4 linked regions of the Homo sapiens genome follow. The protein of the gene in region 1 purifies or fractionates together with the protein of each later gene. This does not show direct contact. Each region holds a gene or a part of one and is shown on either strand. Other genes may lie near its edges. The genes, in order: ZNF689, MTCL2, ANKS3 and ZBTB40.

The links.
Region 2: the proteins of ZNF689 (region 1) and MTCL2 purify together in Homo sapiens (affinity purification with mass spectrometry; one large-scale study listed by BioGRID and IntAct). This does not show direct contact.
Region 3: the proteins of ZNF689 (region 1) and ANKS3 purify together in Homo sapiens (affinity purification with mass spectrometry; one large-scale study listed by BioGRID and IntAct). This does not show direct contact.
Region 4: the proteins of ZNF689 (region 1) and ZBTB40 purify together in Homo sapiens (co-immunoprecipitation; 2 studies listed by BioGRID and IntAct, with this or other methods). This does not show direct contact.

Annotation. Positions count from the first base shown.
Region 1 is NC_000016.10:30,606,505-30,612,364, reverse strand, and holds the start of ZNF689 (zinc finger protein 689), read left to right. Parts: upstream 1-1,975; 5' UTR 1,976-2,323; coding exon 2,324-2,528; intron 2,529-2,536; exon of another isoform or gene 2,537-2,623; intron 2,624-2,726; coding exon 2,727-2,840; intron 2,841-5,860. UniProt on the Homo sapiens protein: May be involved in transcriptional regulation.
Region 2 is NC_000020.11:36,779,351-36,784,335, forward strand, and holds part of MTCL2 (microtubule cross-linking factor 2), read right to left. Parts: 3' UTR 1-4,985. UniProt on the Homo sapiens protein: Microtubule-associated factor that enables integration of the centrosomal and Golgi-associated microtubules on the Golgi membrane, supporting directional migration. Preferentially acts on the perinuclear microtubules accumulated around the Golgi.
Region 3 is NC_000016.10:4,695,756-4,700,944, forward strand, and holds the end of ANKS3 (ankyrin repeat and SAM domain-containing protein 3), read right to left. Parts: intron 3,422-5,189; coding exon 3,297-3,421; intron 3,187-3,296; coding exon 3,045-3,186; intron 2,845-3,044; coding exon 2,672-2,844; intron 2,308-2,671; coding exon 2,222-2,307; intron 1,662-2,221; coding exon 1,578-1,661; intron 1,350-1,577; coding exon 1,273-1,349; 3' UTR 1,262-1,272; intron 1,142-1,261; 3' UTR 756-1,141; downstream 1-755. UniProt on the Homo sapiens protein: May be involved in vasopressin signaling in the kidney.
Region 4 is NC_000001.11:22,489,226-22,494,414, forward strand, and holds part of ZBTB40 (zinc finger and BTB domain-containing protein 40), read left to right. Parts: intron 1-654; 5' UTR 655-723; coding exon 724-1,420; intron 1,421-2,174; coding exon 2,175-2,308; intron 2,309-5,189. UniProt on the Homo sapiens protein: May be involved in transcriptional regulation.

The sequences.
Region 1 (5,860 bases):
GGCGTGGTGGCGGGCGCCTGTAGTCCCAGCTACCCGGGAGGCTGAGGCAGGAGAATGGCGTGAGCCCGGGAGGCGGAGCTTGCAGTGAGCCGAGATGGCGCCACTGCCCTCCAGCCTGGGTGACAGAGCGAGACTCCGTCTCAAAAAAAAAAAAAAAAAAAAAATGTGGAGGCTAATGGGGTGGGTGCTGGCTTGTTCCATCAGCAATTTTCAGTTCAGTGCCTTTCACATACATGCTTGTATCATTCTGTTATGATTCATTGTGAATTTATATGCTTTACTAGACTGTAAGCTCCATTCAAAGCATGGCCTATGACTTATTTATGTACGCTCTCCCAATTGCCTAGCACTATGCTTTGTACGTTGAACAAATGTCACGTGAAAATAATGTAGGGAGATTATGCAGAATATTGAACTTGAGAAGAAAACAAGAGCTCAGGTGGATTCCTGGTTTAGCAAGCAAATTAGGATACTGTGAAGGAAGGATGCCTATCAGTGGTATGAATAAAGGCTCTGTCTGCCCCAGGTTTAAATCTTTATTCCCCACTCCTTACTAGCAGTATGGCCCTGGAAACTCATGGAATCCCTCTGAGATCGTTTCTTCATTAGTAGAACCAGGATGATAACCATTGGTTCACAAAATGCTAGTAAAGAATTAATAACGGGCTGGGTGTGGTGGCTCACTCCTGTAATCCCAGCACTTTGGGAGACCGAGGTGGGCGGATTGCTTGAGCTCAGGAGTTCGAGACCAGCCTGGGAAACATGGCGAAACACCGTCTCTACCAAAAATACAAAAAATTAGCAGAGCACTGTGGGTGCATGCCTTCACTCCAGCCTGGGCAACGGAATGAGACCCAGTCTCAAAAAAAAAAAGCGAATAACTAATGGCTCCGGTGCTGTGGCTTATGCCAGTAATCCCAGCCCTTTGGGAGGACGAGGCAGGAGGATCACTTAGCCTAAGGGTTCGAGACCAGCCTGGGCAACACAGGGAAACCCTGACTCAACAAATAACATAAAAAATTAGCCAGGCGTGGTAGTGCACACCAGTAGTCCCAGTTACTCTGAAGGCTGAGGCAGGACGATTGCTTGAGCCCAGGAGTTAGAGGCTGCAGTGAGCTGAGATTGCACTACTGCATTCCATCCCGCCCGGGTAACAGAGTGAGACCCTGTCTCAAAAAAATAAAAATAAGGCCGGGCATAGTGGCTCACGCCTGTAATCCTAGCACTTCGTGGGGCCGAGGTGGGTGAATCACTTGAGGTCAGAAGTTCGAGACCAGCCTGGCTAACATGGTGAAACCCCATCTCTGCTAATAAATATGAATATTAGTCAGGAGTGGTGGCACGCGCCTGTAATCTCACTTACTCGGGAGGCTGAGGCAGGAGAATCGCTTGAACGTGGGAGGTGGAAGCTGCAGTGAGCCGAGATTTCGCCACTGCACTCCAGCCTGGGCGACAGAGCACGACTCTGTCTCAAAAATAAATAAATAAAATAAAAATAAAAAATAATAAAGATGAAATATGTAATATGCTGGGCATGGCGCCTGCCCCCAGGAAATGCTAACCATAATTCCCTCCCCTAAAGGGCAAACAAAGAAGATAACCATTCTCCAAAGTCAAGGATGCTCTGAGAACACCAGTAAAAGGAACTCAGGATAATCTCAGCTCTAACTCGGCCAGAGTGGCTCCATCGCTCAAATCGTTCCCTCCTTCAGTGATTGGCTGAGCCTGCCAGAGTCGAACAGCGGAAAGCAGCCCCGGGGCCTCTTGCTGCCCCCAGGTCGGTGCAAGTCGCTTCACAACTCCTTGTAGTCGCCTGATCCTAGCAGTCCAGCTTCCTGCCCTTATGCAGCTCTTGGCTTCGTTCAAACGGACCGCCTTTGCTAGCACCCAATCAGAACGCTCGATCTTCGGCTCTCGTCCAATGAACGCGCGTATTGGGGAGGGGAAAAAAGACGGCGTGAAGCCCAATCGCAGCGCCATTACACTTGAGGGCAAAGAGGTTAGGAAGCCGGCATGGCGCTCCGGTCAATAAAATCGATAGCTGGAAGCTGCCTGTGTTCCAGGCAAAGGCGGTGCGGTAGCAGCGCCGCCATTTTCCCCGAAGGCATCTTCCGGTGCCTTTCACCCAAGTTCGGGCAGGAGTTTCCTGAATAACAGCAAAAGGTTTCCGTTAGCCCCGCGGGCGACCAATTCCGATTCCCTCCGGGCCTCCCCGGCCACGCTCAGCCCTGGTCCGGCAGGGGCTCCTCGATCCCAGGGGCCGCCAGCGCCCGAGGGCCGAGGCCTGGACACGGAAGGCCGTGGCGCCGGCTTCTCGGGTCCCATGGCGCCACCTTCGGCTCCGCTCCCTGCGCAGGGACCAGGAAAGGCCAGACCCAGTCGGAAAAGGGGCAGGAGGCCGAGGGCTCTGAAGTTCGTGGACGTGGCCGTGTACTTCTCCCCGGAGGAGTGGGGCTGCCTGCGGCCCGCGCAGAGGGCCCTGTACCGGGACGTGATGCGGGAGACCTACGGTCACCTGGGCGCGCTCGGTGAGGCCGGCCCCATCCGCTGCCGCGGGGCGCGAAGGGATGCAGGAGCCGGAGAGGGTGTAGGCAGGGAGGCCACGGTCCTGGCAGGCGACCAGGTTGTCAGGGGAGGTGGGCAGGGGCTTAGCAGGAGGTGCCGTCGGGGAGATACTACTCGGCGTGATCTAGGAGCTGGCCTTCTGATTTGTTCTCTTTCCCCAGGGTGCGCAGGTCCCAAACCAGCCCTCATCTCCTGGTTGGAACGAAACACCGATGACTGGGAACCGGCTGCTCTAGATCCGCAGGAGTACCCGAGAGGGCTAACAGTCCAGAGAAGTGAGTGCTAAATAACCACGCAGAGCCTGCAGCCCTCCTATAACGTTCTACCTCTAACGGCTCTGTCCAGAGTTTTGGTTGGGCTAGGGGTGGGTGCCGCGTATTTAGTATATTCATCTTCCCAGCCTCTTGTGTCTGGTGGTGTGGGGCCGGTCCACCACACAGAGATTCCTATGTCAGTCTGCAAGCTGCAGTTTTCCACTGTGTGAATGAATCAGTGGGCTTATTCTTCGTCTTTTTTTTTTTTTTTTTTTTTTGTAGAAACATTGTCTTGCTCAGTTCGGTCTTGAACTTCTGGCCTCAAGCGATCCTCCTGCCTTGGCCTCCCAAAATGCAGGGGTTACTGGCGTGAGCCATTGCAGCCAGCCAGAATCAGTGAGCTTTTAACAGGTGCTACCCTCTGCCTCCTTTCCAGGATCTCTGCCTCTAGCCACCTTTGAGTTGGACCAAAGAGATCCTAAACTTCTCAGAGTTTTCTGGGTTTTGGTTGAAGGGAGCTCATGGGGAACAGCTGCCTGGGATGCAGGGGCCTCTTTCTGCTCTTACGGCAGGATGACCCTTATCAGCGAAGGACATACTGCAATCTCCTCAGAATCCAACAAGGCTCTGCTTAACCCCATTCAGGTAGAAGGGTCCCAGATCCACCCATAGTAGAAGATGGAGCTGTCTGGGCTGGAATTTCAGAGCCAGATTCTTCAAGACCAGGGATAGCTGTCCAAGATTCAGATCTGACCATGATATTTCCTTGCTTAAAACTTTTCAGTTAATTTTTGCCAAGGTTGTTAAATGGCCATTGGTTATATCTAAATCACTTGGGGAACTTGGTAAAAACGCAGGTTCCAGGACCCCATCCCAGAGCTATTCATTCACTCGTGTGAATGTTTAGGAACTTCCATTTTTTAAATAGCCTCAGCTGATTCAGATGTGCATCTAGGTTTGAAAACCGGCCGGCTGGTGGCTCATGCCTGTAATCCCAGCACTTTGGGAGGCCGAGGTGGGTAGATCACTTGAGGTCCGGAGTTCAAGACCAGCCTGACCAACATCGTGAAACCCCGTCTCTACTAAAAAAATACAAAAATTAGCCGGGCACTATGGTGGGCGCCTGTAATTCCAGCTACTCAGGAGGCTGAGGCAGGGAGAATTGCTTGATCCTGGGAGGTGGAAGTTACAGTGAGCCGAGATCATGCCAGTGTACTCCAGCCTGGGTGCCACAGTGAGACTCCATCTTGGGGGAAAAAAAAAAAGAAAAGAAAACCATTGGGTAAAATACAGTCCAAGGTCTTTAACAATGCTAACAGCAGTGGTTCTCAAAGCGTGGTCTCAGACCAGAAGCAGCATTATTTGGAAACTTGTTAGAAATGCACATTCTTGGACCCTACCCCAGACCTGCTGAATCCAAAGCGGGCACTAGGGCCTGGCATTCTGTTTCAGTAAATCCTCCCAATGATTCTGATCACAGTGGAGTTTGAGAACCATTGGCTTAGAGGGCCTTTTGACCCAGTCACTGCTAGCTCATACCTCATAGGTTTCCATATCTTGCCTTACACTCTTTTGTGTGTGTGTGAGACGGAGTCTTGCTCTGTTGCCCAGGCAGGAGTGCAGTGGCACGATCTCAGCTCACTGTAACCTCTTGCTCCCGGTTTCAAGCAATTCTCCTGTCTCAGCCTCTGGAGTAGGTGGGACTACAGGTGCCCACGATCACACCCGGCTAATTTTTAGTAGAGACAGGGTTTCTCCATATTGGTCAAGCTGGTCTCGAACTCCTGACCTCAGGTGATCCGCCTGCCTTGGCCTTCCAAAGTGCTGGGATTGCAGGTGTAAGCCACCGCGCCCAGCCTGTCTTGCTTTTACACTTTGTGTCTAAGAAGATCTTAGGGCCTGTGCACACTGTACACTGAGCCTTGGGACTTATGTTTCTTTTCTTTTTTTTTTTTGAGACGGAGTTTTGCTCTTCCACCCAGGCTGGAGTGTAGTAGTGCAATCTTGGCTCACTGCAACCTTTGCCTTCCGGTTTCAAGTAATCATCTTGACTCAGTTTCCCAAGTAGCTGGGATTACAGGCGCCCGCCAGCATGCACGGCTAATTTTTGTATTTTTAGTAGAGACGGGGTTTCACCATGTTGGCCAGGCTGGTCTCGAACTCCTGACCTCACAGTCCGCCCACCTTGGCCTCCCAAAGTGCTGGGATTATAGGAATGAGCCACTGCGCTTGGCTGGGACTTACGTTTCTAACACTGCATAATTTTAATTCTTTTTTTTTTTTTTTTTTTTTTTTTTGAGATGGAGTCTCACTCTGTCATGCAGGCTGGAGTGCAATGGCGTGATCTTGGCTCACTGCAACCTCCGCCTCCCAGGATCAAGTGATTCTCCCACCTCAGCCTCTGGGTAGCTGGGATTATAGGCACCTGCTATTGTGCCCAGCTAATTTTTATATTTTTGTAGAGACGGGGTTTCACCATGTTGGCCAGGCTGGTCTTGAACTCCTGACCTCAGGTGATCCGCCTGCCTCAGCCTCCTAAAGTGCTAGGATTACAGACATGAGCCACCACGCCCAGCCACATTTTTTAAAGAATCAGCTAAGTCAAATAAACCATCCACAATGGAATTCTGTGTAGCTGTAAAATAGAAAAAAGATTTGCTGACATAAAATGATCTTTAGAATATATTAAGTGAAAAAATGTAAAGTGTGTATAAGGTGTGTATATGTTGTCTTTTGTATAAGAAAGGTGAGCTGGGCATGGTGGCTCACGCCTGTAGTCACTTTGGGAGATAGAGGTGAGCAGATAACCTGAGGTCAGGAGTTCGAGACCAACCTGGCCAACATGGTGAAACCCTGACTCTACTAAAAATACAAAAAATTAGCTGGGCATAGTGGTGCATGCCTGTAATCCCAGCTACTTAGGAGGCTGAGGCAGGGAGAATCACTTGAACCCGGGAGGCGGAGATTTCAGTGAACTGAGATCACACCATTGCACTCCAGCCTGGGTGACAGAGCGTGACTCTGTCTCAAAAAAGAAAAAA
Region 2 (4,985 bases), on another chromosome or scaffold:
GAGAAGAACCTGTCAGGCAGCACCTGCTTTACAGTCAAGGCCATCTGGGCCTGGGCAGGGCAGGGGAGGAAAAAGGAGGGATCCAAGCCCCCCCCACCCACCACCACACACACGCCCATTGCAAAGTGCTGGGGCTGCTGCTGGCAGGCTGCTTACAGAGAAGACAGTGTGGCTTAAGGGTGGCACCGGGGGGTTGCTGGGGCAGGGTGAGCCCAGTGAGAAGGGCTGGCAGGGCTGGTGCCTCCTGATGCATTGGAGGAAGAGGCTTTTTTTTGTGTGTGTGAGAAAACACAAAATAAATAAACACAGAACCAGGACACCACCACATTTGAGAGCAAATATCAGAGTTGGGAAACCACAGACGCGGACAGGAAGGCTTCCCTGGTAGGAAGCAGGGGGACAAGAAGCCAGTTACTGAGGTTACGGGAAAATCCGCACGAGGCAGCAGTGCTGGGAAGAACATCCTGGGAGGACTGAGGGCTGAATACTATAGTGAGCTCCGGACCCAGAAGAGGAAAACCTGGCATGGACCAGGGCCACTCCATTTGCTGGCAGGAACCAGCCAAGGAGAAGAGGAGGCAGGAGGACAAGAGGCTTTGGAGGGAGATGATAAAGAAAGAATGGGTGAGTGGTGGGAAGCAGACTGAGCCCAGAGAAAGGAAGGGGCTAAACCAAGATTACAGAAAGTCAAAGCAGTGTCTCATTCACTACTGGGGATGCAAGACCTGTTAGGAGTCAGGAAACCTGGGTTCTGGTCTTGGCTCTGCCTCTGGTTTGCGATGTGACCTTGGGTGAGCCACTGCCTTCTCTGGGCCTGATTCCTCATCTCAAAAAATGAGGGGGCTGGACACAAAAGGACAAATACTATATGATTCTACTTAAAAGAGATACCTAGAATAGGCCAATCCACAGAGAAAAAAAAAAAGTAGAATAGAGGTTACCAGGGACTGGGGACAGGGGGAGTGGGGAGTTACTGTTTAGTGGGTACAGAGTTTCAGTTTAGGATGATGAAAAAGTTCTGGAGGTGGCAGTTACACATTGCAAATGTACTTCGAGACACTTAGAAATCTTTAAAATGGTAAATTTAATGTTATGCACATTTTGCCATCATTCTTTTAAAAAGGAAGGGGTTTAGACCAAATTATGTTATGGCCTCCTTGCTATTCATGAAGACTAGTGAAGGGGGTGAGGAGAGTATTGTCCCCCACCCCAGGGCCAGGGCACTGAAAGGCTGGGCTGGGGACACTGAGTGTGATCAGATCACTTTCCATTTGTGTAGAACCTTACACTTTTCCAAGGAGACTCGCAGGCACAGTGTTGCAGTTGGTCCTCACCACAGTTACATGGGGTGGGACATTATCCTCACTTTACAGATGGGGAAACTGAGGTATAGACTAGAAACATGATCTCGCCAAGGTCAATCACGTTGGTGGATTATTTATTTTTTTAAATAGTCACCTGGAAAACATCCTTGCATCTTAGGTTCACCCGTTGACTCACCAACTGGCTCAGTGGCCCTTGATGAAAGGATACATGCTATAAATTAGTAGAAGAGTTCGTCTCCTGGGGCCAACATGCTTGCTTCCCATAATTGGATGATAAAAATTATAAATCCTGATGTGTTTCTCTTTTTACCAATGGCTGTCAGGAAACTCAAGAGTAAAACTTAATTGCATGATTATGGGAATTACACCAGTTAGATTTACAGAATAATTTCTCTTGCTTTTTTACTTCTTATTTTTATTTTACTGAACCCCTATGATTAAGATTGTAAATAGCCTCTGATGCTTTTTGAAAATCCTGAGTAATTAAATCAGTTTGGTTGAGGACTCGATCCCTTAAGTCCCTGCTCAGTGCTCTTTTTAAGATACAGCATCATGTTTATTGGTTAAAAGAAAGATGAGGCTGGATGCCGTGGCTCACGCCTATAATCCCAGTACTTTGGGAGGCCGAGGTGGGTGGATCACCTGAGGTCAGGAGTTCAAGACCAGCCTGGCCAACATGGTGAAACCCCGTCTCTACTAAAAATAAAAAAATTAGTCGGGTGTGGTGGCACACACCTGTAATCCCAGTTACTCGGGAGGTTGAGGCAGGAGAACTGCTTGAACCTGGGAGGTGGAGGCTGCGGTGAGCTGAAATGGCGCCACTGTACTCCAGCCTGAATGACAGAGCAAGACTCTGTCTCCAAAAAAAAAAGAAAAAGGAAGATGACCTGGCACGGTGGCTGATGCCTGCCTGTAACCCCAGCACTTTGGGAGGCTGAGGAGGGCAGATCACTTGAGCCCAGGAGTTTGAAACCAGCCTGGGCAACATAGGGAGACCCCCTGTCTCTAAAAATAATAATAATAAATAATAAATAAATAAATAAATAAAATAAAAAATAAATCTAAAAAAACTTAAAAAAAGAAAGATAGCCTAATAATCAGGGCCACGAACACCAATGGTGTGGCCAATAGTGCCTAAGATCCCCCGGGGAGGGCTGGTTTTATTTTTTATTTTTTTTGAGACAAGTCTCATTCCGTTGCCCAGGCTAGAGCGCAATGGCACAATCTCGGCTCACTGCAACCGCTGCTCCCCACCAGGTTCAAGTGATTCTCCTGCCTCAGCCTCCCAAGTAGCTGGGATTACAGGCATGTGCCACCACACCTGGCTAATTTTTGCATTTTTAGTAGAGACAGGGTTTCACCATATTGGCCAGGCTCGAACTCCTGAGCTCAAGTGATCCACCCGCCTCAGCCTCCCAAAGTGCTGGGATTACAGGTGTGACCACTGCACCCACCCCTCAACCCCAGGAGAGTTTGTTAAACATGCAAATTCAAGGTGGGGCCCAGGAATCTACATTCTGAACATGCCCTCAGAGAATTCTGCTGAATGGGGACCTCAGATCACCCTCTGGAATACACAAGGCTCAGTGATCTAGAATGGACTTGTTTTATGCCTGGGTTGGCCAGCAGCATATTCTGGGTATTCTGGACCCACCAAAAGCCCCCAGCAGGGCAGCGGATTTGCACAGCAAACAGGACAGAGTTGGACCCAAGTTCTCATCTAAACTCAGTGACTTCTCATGCTCTGGGATGAGACCTGTACCTCAGTTTCCTCACAGCAAAATGGGCGCACTAACCCATGTCCTGCCAAGGCTGCCTCCCAGAGTTGTCCCTGAGAGGTCTGAAGGAGATGTGGGGTGGGAAACGATTTCTTTTTTGAGATTGGGTCTCACTCTGTCATCCAGGCTGGAGTGCAGTGGCGCAATCTCTGCTCCTGCAACCTCCGCCTCCTGGGCTCAAGCGATTCTCCCACCTCAGCCTCCCGAGTAGCTGGGATTACAGGCACGCACCACCATGCTCAGCTAATTTTTTGTACTTTTAGTACAGACAGGGATTCACCACGTTGGCCAGGCTGGCGTTGAACTCCTGACCTCAACTGATCCGCTCGCCTCAGCCTCCCAAAGAGCTGGGATTTCAGGCGTGAGCCACCATGCCCGGCCAGGGGAAACGTTTTCTATATAGTAAAGTGCTTTAGGCGGGATGTGCAGGGGATGATGATAACCATTGTTATTACTATTATTATGGAAGAAGTAGTGGGAGCTTGGGGGGTCTGGTGAGGCTAGAAGCAGGGGACATTCTAGATAGGAGGGGAGAGGGAGAAAGAGCCTGGACGCTGGGTGGGCCAGAGGAGAAGAGGCTGGGTGATGAAACCATAAAAGTGCATGCGGGTGGACATGATGGAACCATGTCAGCAAGGGTGTAAGAGGGTCAAGTCTTTGGGCCCTTGGCCTTGTCACATCGGAAGCCAACCGGTAGAAGAGTGCACCTGGGGACACCTAGAGGTGGGACCCATCTTGAGTTCATAGAAAGCAAGACCTCTTAGAGGTCAGCCTTTGGTGGGAAATAAACTGGGGGAAAGGGCTGGCACAGGGTCAGAGGATTGGATTCTGATGTCTCGTGTGTGCAGGCCTAAGAGCCACTGATGCACCAAAATGACTTGATTTGCATTCCAATGAAGTCATCATTCCAAAAGGGGCTGATTTGGCTCTGGAAAGAGGTGAGACATAAGAAACATGAGGTTTCCCAGTTTAGGGCCATCATGCCAACTGGTCCCCCATTTCCGCCAACCAACTGATGCCAACCCCATGGACCCAAGCCAAGTGGTCTATGGGGGATTGAGCCCCGAGGGTTCCTTGGGACTTTGGTTGAAGAGAGAGTGGAGATGGGGAAAACAGAAAGAAGGATAAAGGAGGAGAAGAAGGGAATAGCAGTAAAAGGCAGAGAGGCAGGAGGAAGGGGGAGAACGGGTTCGAGAAGGGCAGCATTCCTTCTTGGGACCCCAATTCTCCAGGGAATCCCCACTGTGGGTCAGGCAGTTTTCTGCTTTGGGAATGTTACCAAGACTTAAAAGGCATTTGAAGAAACCAACAAACTTAGAAATCACATTCCAAAAGAGTAGAGAATTTTTACAAACCAATCCCCCCACCCCAAAAAAGAAAACAACCAGTTACCAAGTAAAATGCTAAAAACCGAACCAAACCAATATTTACATGTAACATTTTCAACCCCATCCAGCCCCACGTCCAGAGGCTTCTGCAGGAACAGTGATGAGTGGCCTTGCACAGTGGCATGCAGGAAGTAGAAACTGGGGCTTTACTGAAAACCAAGGTCTGGCTGAGACAACAAAGATGGCAAGGACAATCCTGGACGGTACGATGGTAAGGCTGAGTGGTCCGTAGGTCTTGGGGCTCAGGTCCCACGGGGATTTCTCCCCGAGGCTGAGTACGCAGCCTCCCTGGCTGTCGCTCTGGGAGGTGGCAGAAGGCCTCTGGTGGCTTGTGGCCTGATGTGAATCCCCTCACCTGGAGATAACCTTGGAGGGCCCCCCTGACCTCATGGGTGAGAGCAGCAGCATCCAAGAGCGGAACTGGCCCACAGCTCCACTGGCTGCCTGCTCTGCCCACACCAGTCACTGGGGCATGGAGGAGGCGGCTGGCGGGA
Region 3 (5,189 bases), about 26 Mb from region 1:
GGTTCCCAGGGACAGTCAGGGCCTCGGGGGCCCAGCTATGTACAACGAAGCTGTCGAAGGAGAAGACAATAAAGTCGCTCCGCAGCTGCTCTGTGTGTTTCTCAGCTGCCCTGTGTGTTTGTTTTGGTTCTGGATGGAACCAGCTCAGGCCCCCTGCCCTAGGTGGGGGAGGGAGGAGCTGCCCCAGCCAGGGGCACGTTTGTTCCCCAGTGTTTACTGGGGGCACTCCCAGCATGAATGCTGTGCCCATCAGCCAGGTTGGGGCGTCTGGGCCGAGACCTTCAGGGCAGGCTCCCCTTCCTGATCCTGGTGGCCCTGGCTGCACCTGGGCTGACCTGCTTTGCTTTGCAAACCCACCATTCCCCACTGTCTGCAAGCAGCTCCAGGGGATGGTGTAGAAGTGCAGGCTTACTGTGCAGAAGGACAGCAGCAGAGCCATCCCTCGTGGTCTCCTACAGCCCCACATCTGGAAAGACTCCAGCGGCATCGTCAGAAAATTTGCACAGCCCATGCCTGGCCCGGTGAGGGAGGCAGTGTGCCCAGCTCCATCTCAGAGCTCGGTGTGAGAGCAGCATGTCCCGGGGGAGGCCCTGTGCTACGGCGGGCTGGGGATGTTCTTGGCTCTCAAAGCCTTATCTTGAGTTGTCTGGGCTCCAGGAGCAAAAGACACACCCCTGAACAGCAGAGGACAGGGCAGTCAGGGTTGCTGCATTGGCCAGTGCCTCATGTCATGTGACCAGAACTGAGCCCTTCACTAGCTGTTCTTAAATTTTATTTTCCAAAAAATGGCATTTTCCAGGTGCCCCAGTCCTCATTCCTAAGGTCCCACCTCAGTTGGCACCTGTGCGTGTATATGGATACACTTTCCCCCCAGGGCCCTGCCTGGTATGGGCCAGGGCAGCCCATGAACTCTGGGCCTCACCACGAGGTTCTGGGTGAGGCCCTCGTCCCGCCTCAGTGCTGGCCCGAGCTGCCGAGCCAGGGCCGCAGCCCCCGTCTTGCCTCTGTCTGCCGGCTGCTCCCGGGGCCTGATCCTCTGGCCCCCACTGGGCCTGGGCTGCACATGGCAGCTACCTGCTCACTGTCCTCCTCACTCCCTGGCACACAGCTTCAGGGTGGACCAATCACCCAACGTCAGATTCTGAAAGAAAAAGCCCCGGTGAGAAGGGAGGGGGACAGGTGGGTGCATACCCACACCTGCAGCCGCCCAGACAGGCCCTGCTGCTCCCACCACGCGGGATCCAGGCTGGCAGACACTCACCGGCCCGCAGGCTAGGTCTCCCGCCACTTCTTCCCGTTCAGCACCTGCAGCTTCTCCAGGCTCTGGGTCACTAAGCACAGTGCTTGCCCTGAGGAATGATGACCTTGAGCCTCTCCCGGCCAGGCTCAGGAGGGCTGGGTGGTGCTGCCCCGGGGTCTCAGCTGCAGGATGTGACCTGCCCCTCACCCGTTATGGCCCCAGCCCCGAGGTCAGCCTTGGGGTAGAGAGACACAAACCCGCTTTCCCTGGAAAGGGGTCCCTTTGCCTCCCTCGGAAACAAAAGGAGCGCTCAGTCGTCTGGTCCCCGGAGACTCACCCATCTCACGGACACGGTCCTCCAGGGCTCCCGAGAGCTCGGGGAGGCTCATGGCCTGCAGGGACGCTTGCCAGCCCTTGGAGTCTGTGGTGCAGGTGCAGGGACCGAGTTAGCTGGGGGTCTGCGTCCCCACAGGCCCTGCTTTATTCTGAGCCCATGCAACCAGGAGAACCTGCTTGGATCAGAACCTCCCTACCCGCCTGACAGTGTCTAAGCAACCTCCCAAGGCCGAGGCAGGGAAGCCCTGTTGTGCCCTTCCTCCCACAGGCTGAGCAAACACTACGAGGCCCGGGTCAGCCCGAGAGAAGGCAAAGCTCTGCCGGTGGGGACCCGGGTCTGGGCCCTGGCTGGAGGCTACAGAAGTCACTGGCGGTCTCAGCACAGCACAGCCAGCCAAGGCACAGGGCCTTTCTCGAGTACCTCCTACCCCTGGGGGATAGGCAGTTTTCCTGTCACAGGTGAGGAAGTGGGCTTGGGTCCCCAGGGCCCCCTCTTTTCCTTGGACTCTGGGATCATGTGCACACAGGGACCTGGGAGAGTGGCTGCCGGCCGGAGAACCAGGCCAAGCCCACTGGGTCAAACCTGGCTTCAGGGCTCCCCCACCTTCCCCTCTGCCCAGTGCGGAGTCAGGCCACTGCTCTTACCAGCTGGGGGGACGGCTAGGCCCAGAGTGGCTGCACCAGGGGGCTGGTCCTGCCTCACTCGAGATGACAGCTCAGCTTGACAGGCTCTGCCAGACACAGAAACAAATATTGGTGAGAGCAGAGGCCTGGCCGCTGCAGAGCCCCCACCTCAGACCTTCTAGGGGAGGGAGGGGCTCAGCCCTGTCCTTGCAGCTGGCCCTCATGGGCTGGGCCAGTGCCCCATGAGGCTGCACTAAAGAGCAGGAGGGCGACCGGTGCAGATTCCCGGACCCAACTCCTGCCTGGGTCTGCCTGCAGGAAGGAAGGGCCTGATGAAATGGGGGTGGGGTGGCTCCAGACCCTGAAATCCACCCCTCAGTTACAAAATCAGGAGGAAAGGATGTGTGGGGGCCCAGGGGCCAGGTGGCTGACCACTGGAGACCCAGCCCAGGGCAGCTCAGAGCCACTCACCGCAGCTGGTCCAGGACGAGGGCAGCATCCCGGGCCAGGGCCCACGTCTCCCGCAGCCGGGCCTGGAGGTCCTCGCGGGCGCGGTCCTGCTCCAGCAGGCAGCTCTCCACCACGGCGCGCAGCTCCTGCTCCTGACACACCTGGCCCCGCGTGGCCTCTACCTCCTCGCAGCGCTGCAGGGGGGTGGGGGGCGCGGGGAGGCTGGGAGGTGGCCGGTCAAGCCAGACCCTTGGCCACGGCCCTGTCCTGTGTGTGGGGCCCTCTCCCCACTGCATCCACCTGACCCCTCCACACAGCACCCACCTTTTCTGTCAGAGATGGAGCCAACTCACGGGTGTCACCCTGCCCCCCCATCCCCCACCCAGCCACTCACCTTGTGCAGCTGGATGGCGAGCTCCTGCATCTCAGCCTCCAGCCGGTCGGCGTAGGCCAGCTCCAGGGCATCCCCGGGTGGGCGGGCACTGCTGTGCCAGCGGGCAATGGCGGACGTCATCTTCCTCTTGGGCCCAAACAGCCTGCGGGGGGAATGTGACCAGGATATGCCTCAGCGTCCCAAGAGCGCTTACATGAGTGGGAGTTTGCCCCAACCCCGGGCTGAGGGCCAGAGCGGCCCTTCTGGACGCACGTGATGCCAATTTCCTTCAGGTCGCTCTCAGTGAGGGTCAGAAAGATGCGGAGGTCCACGTCCTGCTCCTCAAACACCTGCAGGTACTTCAGACACCCGATCTGCTCCAGCAGTGCGGCAAGGTCCTGGCAGGCACAGGGGACAGGTTGGGGGAGGTAGTGGCTGACGACGAAGCAGAGACGTTTTCCTCCACTCGGAGCCCCACCACTTCCCCAGGCTCAGAACCAAGACAGTGCCTTGTGTGTGGCGCCCAGGCTGTCCCCTCCTACTCTGGTGGCTCAGGCAGGGCAGGATGTTGCAGGCAGGTGAGTCCTCACACTATGGTCGGCCACGTGGGGACAATGTATGTTCATCACCAGAAACTGGCCTCCTCCTCCCACACATGCTCAGTTCTGTGAAGGGACCATGGAGCTGCTGATCTCGACAATGCTTTGTAGGCGGAGAGCGCTGCCCTCTAATTCTAGAGTCTCAGTGTCGGATGTTCTGATTTCCACTTGTCTAAGCGCAGCTCTTCTCCGAGTTCACCTGTCTGGAGTTCACCGAGCTCCCTGGATGTAAGATCCGTGTTTCTGATCCACTGAGATGGTCAGGCTGTTTCTCACCCATCGTTTCTGCTCTCCTTCTGGAATGCCACTGTATGGGGTGGTGTCGGTGTGCTTGAGGGGATCACAGATTTCTGTTAATTTTTTTTACTCATTCTTTCTGTTCCTCAAGCGAGATGATCTCAGGTGACCTGTGTTCACAAGTTGTCTGACTCTTCTGCCTGCTCAATTCTGCTGTGAGCTCGTCTAGTGATATTTTCATTTCATTTACTTTTCAACTCCAGAAATCCTACTTTTGAGAGTTTATTGCTTTTAATGGACAAACAAATGTTACTCTGACATTTTCTTCAAGCTATTTTCTGAAAGAAACATACTTAGGACACTACCCTGACCAGACTCCACTCAACGTATGTTGAAGGGACCGAGACGTGTGCCTGCTCACTGAGCCAGGGGCTGCAGGGAGAAGCCGGCAAATCCAAGGCTCTACTGAACAGCAAAGCCAGTGCTTTAACAAATAACCAGCCAGGCCGGGCATGGCACCAGGCCAGGTGTGGTGGCTCACGCCTGTAATCCCAGCACTTTGGGAGGTCGAGGCGGGCGGATCACGATGTCAGGAATTTGAGACCAGCCTGGCCAACATAGTGAAATCCCGTCTCTACTAAAAATACAAAAAATTAGATGGGCATGGTGGCGGGTGCCTGTAATCCCAGCTACTTGGGAGGCTGAGGCAGGAGAATCGCTTGAACCCAGGAGGAGGAGGTTGCAGTGAGCCGAGATCGCGCCACTGCACTCCAGCCCAGATGACAGTGCGAGACTCCGTCTCGAACAAACAAACCAAATAACCAACCAGAGCTTCCCTCTGCCTCTCCTCTCCGTGCCTCTTCTGCCCACACAGGGTAGGAGAACTCAGCAGACACAGGTGAGACAGCTGAGCTGTGAGTCACACCTCTGATCCCTAAGGTAATGTGTGGTCAGAGGGACCACAGAAAGGAGGAGGATGGTGGCAGCTGTAACCATCACCAAGCACACACTGTGTGTAGTTCCTGTCTCTGCTTCAACCACATCTTGTCAGACTCCTGCAGGCAGCTCTGAGGTCAAGTGTGCTTTTCTTCTCCCCAGGCTCAGGGAGGCCAACTCCAGTATGGAAAGCAGGGAGACAGGTCCTTTCCGTGGAGAGGAACAGAGTAGAAGCGCTGCAGCGGGGCTGCCAGCCATGGAGCCGGCTGTGAGCCTGTGGAGCCTAACAGGCCATGGGGATGCCACCGCCATTCTGTTCTCCTAGCAGCGCCTGGCACGTCATATACACAACACATGCCTCCTAAGTCACAAAAAGTGCCGTCTCTGAGTGTAA
Region 4 (5,189 bases), on another chromosome or scaffold:
CTATGGAATCAGAAGAGAGGGAAGGTAAGAGGCGGGATGACTGGGTCCTCGAGCACTCCAAGCTTTAAAGGCTGCGCTGATGCAGAGGACTCAACCAAGGAGACTGGGAAGGCATGGCTAGTGAGTGAGAAGGAGAACCAAGTGAAAAATGTATTTTCAGAGGAAGAGAATGATGACCTCCGTCCCTTGTTAGGGCTAGACTGAATAAGCCAAGGACATTGTATTGTAAGTCTCCGTCTACATATTTATCTCCTCTAGGTGGCTGAGAGCTTTTTGGGAGCAGGAATGGTAGTGTAGTTAGAGCTTCGAAGTCAGTGAGATGGCTGTTTTTCCTTAGGGTGATTCTCTTGGTCCTTCAAAGCTCCAATCTCATCTGTAAAATGGGGAGGAAATAATATCTTTTCCACTGAATCGTTGTGAGAATCAAATGAGACCGTCCATACAAAGCATTATGCACAGTCTCTTTCATATATTTAAACACATAATGATAATGATCATTACTGATTTAGTATACCTGGCATACTGTCCCTTCCTATTAAGCAATATTTGTTGGATGAATGAGTGAAATGCCTTTCTGTTCATTTAGCGTTTCATTCAAGGCCTTTCCCTATGGTTTTTTGAAGTTTTAACCTGGTATTTTGTGGGTTTCTCTAGGGCCTGTCCTCCCAAAGCCAACTCTAAGGAGAGGAGAGGAAGAGCAGTTCTTGGGGCAGAGTTGACGCAATGGAGCTCCCCAACTACAGCCGGCAGCTGCTGCAGCAGCTGTACACTCTGTGCAAGGAGCAGCAGTTCTGTGATTGCACCATCTCCATTGGTACCATTTACTTCAGGGCTCACAAGCTTGTCCTGGCTGCTGCCAGCCTCCTGTTCAAAACCCTGCTGGATAACACAGATACCATCTCCATCGATGCATCTGTGGTGAGCCCCGAGGAGTTTGCGCTCTTGTTGGAAATGATGTACACGGGCAAACTACCTGTGGGCAAGCACAACTTCTCCAAAATCATCTCCTTAGCAGACAGTCTACAGATGTTTGATGTAGCTGTTAGCTGCAAAAATCTTCTGACCAGCCTTGTAAACTGCTCGGTTCAGGGTCAGGTGGTAAGGGATGTCTCTGCGCCATCCTCAGAGACATTCAGAAAGGAACCAGAGAAGCCTCAAGTAGAAATCCTTTCATCTGAAGGTGCTGGAGAGCCTCATTCTTCCCCAGAGCTTGCTGCCACTCCAGGGGGCCCTGTGAAAGCTGAGACTGAGGAAGCAGCCCATTCAGTTTCACAAGAGATGAGTGTGAATTCTCCCACAGCCCAGGAGAGCCAGAGGAATGCAGAAACCCCAGCGGAGACTCCTACTACAGCTGAAGCTTGTTCCCCCTCCCCTGCTGTGCAAACCTTTAGTGAGGCAAAGAAGACAAGCACAGAACCAGGTAACAGTCATTGTTTTATATTCCATCCTTCTGTTTTCAATGATCTTTATCAGTTTTAATGTTTGATTAATAAATTTATCAAAGACCACTGTTAGGTAGAAAACCAAAATTCAGTGCAGTACCGTACTGGGCCATTCTTTTAAAAGTGTCTGTGTTTTTGAACATTGAAAGTCCAAACATGAACTACAGAGCAGAAAAGCAGTATTGGAATAATGACGTACCATTTCGATAATTATCTGTTTCGTTTTGTTTTGTTTTGTTTTCTCTCGAGACGGAGTCTTGTTCTGTTGCCCAGGCTGAAGTGCAATGGCATGATCTCAGCTCACTGCAACCTCCGCCTCCTGGGTTCAAGCAATTCTCCTGCCTCAGCCTCCTGAGTAGCTGGGATTACAGGCATGTGCCACCACGCCCAGCTAATTTTTTGTATTTTTAGTGGAGATGGGATTTCACCATGTTGGCCAGGCTGGTCTCGAATTCCTGACCTCATGATCCACCCGCCTCAGCCTCCCAAAGTGCTGGGATTACAGGCGTGAGCCACCGTGCCCTGCTGATTATCTGCTATTTTAACCAGGCTGAGGACAGCACAAAGGAGGAAGCTGTGAGAGATACTGTTGTCTGTTATTCATAACTGATGTGCTAGACAGAGATCAGTTAAGTGCAGTATATGACCTGAAGGTGCTCAGACAGCTTAAACTTGTAAAAATTTATTTCAAGTAATGAATTTCTGATTTGTTTTATTTTGTTCTACATTTAGGATGTGAAAGGAAACACTACCAGCTGAATTTTCTTCTAGAAAATGAAGGTGTCTTCTCAGATGCACTCATGGTTACCCAGGATGTTTTAAAAAAACTAGAAATGTGTTCAGAAATTAAAGGTCCACAGAAGGAGGTAGGCACCTCTGACTTTTGTACTTGTTTGCTAGTTTAGTGTTCTCAGGATACCTTACTAACTTTTTATATGGGGCAGAAATAGCCCAGGGTTTCAATGTTTTGAAACTTTAATTTTTTTTTTTTTTTGGACATTTATTCCCTAAAGGGCAGTCTTGCAAAAGTACTTAGGCAGGATACTTTCAAAATGACATTACATCTTGATCACCAGGAGAATCCTAGCTTCTAACCAGTTTTGATCCAGAATACTTAACTGATCATACCATTTACTCCTGATTAATCACAGATAAGATTAAGAAGGTAGCCATGTATAACCTCAAACCTGAGACTTAAACCATTAAAATTAAAACAAAACAACAGATACTCAAAACATGAACAAAAAGGACTTTATATAAACTTATAAATTATTGGTAAAATGCATCTAATATTTAGGAATAACAGTGGCCATTTTCAGACATAAAAACAGTAATAGTAAACATTCAACGAACACTTCCTGTATTAAGCTTGGCATATGTGTTACCGCATTTAATTTTCACAAAAATCATCAGTGTGAGTATTATTGTTAAGTCCTGTTTTATGCATGAGAAAACTGTCTCAAAGAGGTGGTGTAATTTGGCGAAGGTCACAGAGCTCATATGACCCTGAGCCAGAATTGAAACCTCAGCATTCTAACTTTAGAGCTGCTCCCTTACACACTGAGTTTATACTGCCTCCCAACAGGGTAAAAGTGATGCATATATATATAAGTGCTTAGGAATCGCCTGACAGGAAACTGCCAAATGGCTATCATGCTTTCTTAGCTGACCTCTTTTTTTAAGTAACTCAGTTGAGACGCATTTCCACCTGTGTGATCTCTCAATACTTGATTCTTCACACCTGACCCTGCAGGATTCGACTCCACAACCAATTTAGAATTCCATTTATTTCCCTTTTCTCCCAGCCCTGCTTCCCCTTTCTGAGAGGCTGCTGGCAGAGTGAGAGGGCGCTGCCCCGGCAGGCTTGCTCCTCTGATTGGTAGGGGGTAGTGTGGGCCGATCCTCCCATGTTGCTATAGGCAATTTTGTATTAGTCCAAGTAATACATGCCTTCTAATAATTAAATGTTTTCCTGATTCATAGCAACTTTTTTAAAAAACAAATTCAAGGTCTAGTATTTATTTTAGCTGTGTTAACTGACAGTCGACTATACATTGTTTTCTTGGGAGACAAGCTATTTACAAGGCTAGGCTAACCCTGATGACTCTCTTTGGGAGGTTTCAAGTCATAAATCCTTGGTACTCTTTGTACTGATTATGCTGAAGGACATTATGGTTTTATATTTTTGCACTTGCGTGTTCTCTTAACTGTTCAATCCATCATTTTTGTCATTAGTTTGTTACCTTGATAGCTTCTAAACACACCTCTTCATTTTCTCTTAAAGCTTCCTCTCCACTTAACTTTGGCTACAGAGGAGTAACGTTATTCCTTAGATCAGCAATACTCAAGTTATTAGTGTCACCTTTATACTTAGTTGAACTGTGTCTTATGCATTTTTTTTAACATTGGTACCTAAAAGTATGTGGCATGTAACAGGTGATGAAGAAATGTCTGTTATACATGCATTCGTTCAACATTTCTTTTTTTCCATTTCTTGTTCTAATCTTTTGATGGCAATATCATTAATATACTTCAAAAGAACACTGATTTGCTGTTGGTGATCATTATAGGCTTATGTTATTTCTTCCTCAGTTTTAGAGGTCAGAGTAGGAGCTCTGCAAATCACTTGGTGGCTGTTTTTAAAGCCAATTCTGTTACAGTCCATAACCTTTGAACTTCAGAAAGAAAAAGGGAACAGATACTTTAAGAATATAAGATTAAATAGAGAGTTAGGGAGATGCTGCTTTGTACTTCGGCCTCTACTTCTCTCTCTCTCTGTCTCTCTCTCATACTTTGTTTCAGACAGCCTTGTTGAGCTATGACTGACATGCAGTAACCTGTAGCTAGGTATGGTGTACAGTGTGATTAGTTTTGGTATATGCCCTGAAACCATCACCACAGTTAAGATGGTAAACATCTCCATCACCCCCAAAAGTTTCTTCTTGTCCCTGTGTACTACCCCTCTCTCCTGCCCCTTCCACTTACCCATGCCCTGGGTAACCACTGGTCTGCTTTCGGTCACTGTACGTAAGTTTGTATTTTCTAGAGTATTGTATAAATGGAGTCATATGGTGTGTATTTTTTGTCTGGCTTTCATTGAGCGTAAGTATCTTGAGATTCACCCATGTTTTTTTTTTTTTTTCCTTTTTTCTTTTTCTGTGAATTCTACAGAGGTACGCCCCTAGTGTTGTGTGTTCATTCCTTCTTATTGCTGAGTTGTATGCATTGTGTGGATATACAATTCATTTATCCACCTCTACTATTTACTAGCATTGTGACTTTAGGCAGCTTCATCTTTATAAGCCTCAGTGTCCTCGTTTGTAAAAAGGGGATACTATCACCTACATCATGGGGTCATTGTGAATTAAGATTATTTATATAAAACTCATAGTAAAATGCCAGGCACTCAGTAGGAGGTCAGTAGGTAACAACTGCTATTGTTTGTTTTTACATTAACTCAGTATTTTTAGACCTAACAGACCTTGAAACCCCCTTTTCACTGAATGTCTTATAATATCCTGGTGCCATGGCCATTTACTCTGACACGAGATGGTTTGCTGTTACTTTAAGCTTAATTTGTAAGGCATGCTTTCAGATAGGTACCACCATCCACTTGGAAGTAGCTTCCTAAACTGCAAGGGCAGTGTCTAGTCTGAAGCAATCACTTTCTAGAACAGTGTCTAGAGGAAGTAGCTTCCTGTACTGCAGGGGTAGTGTCTAGTACGTAGCAATCAGTCTCTAGCAATG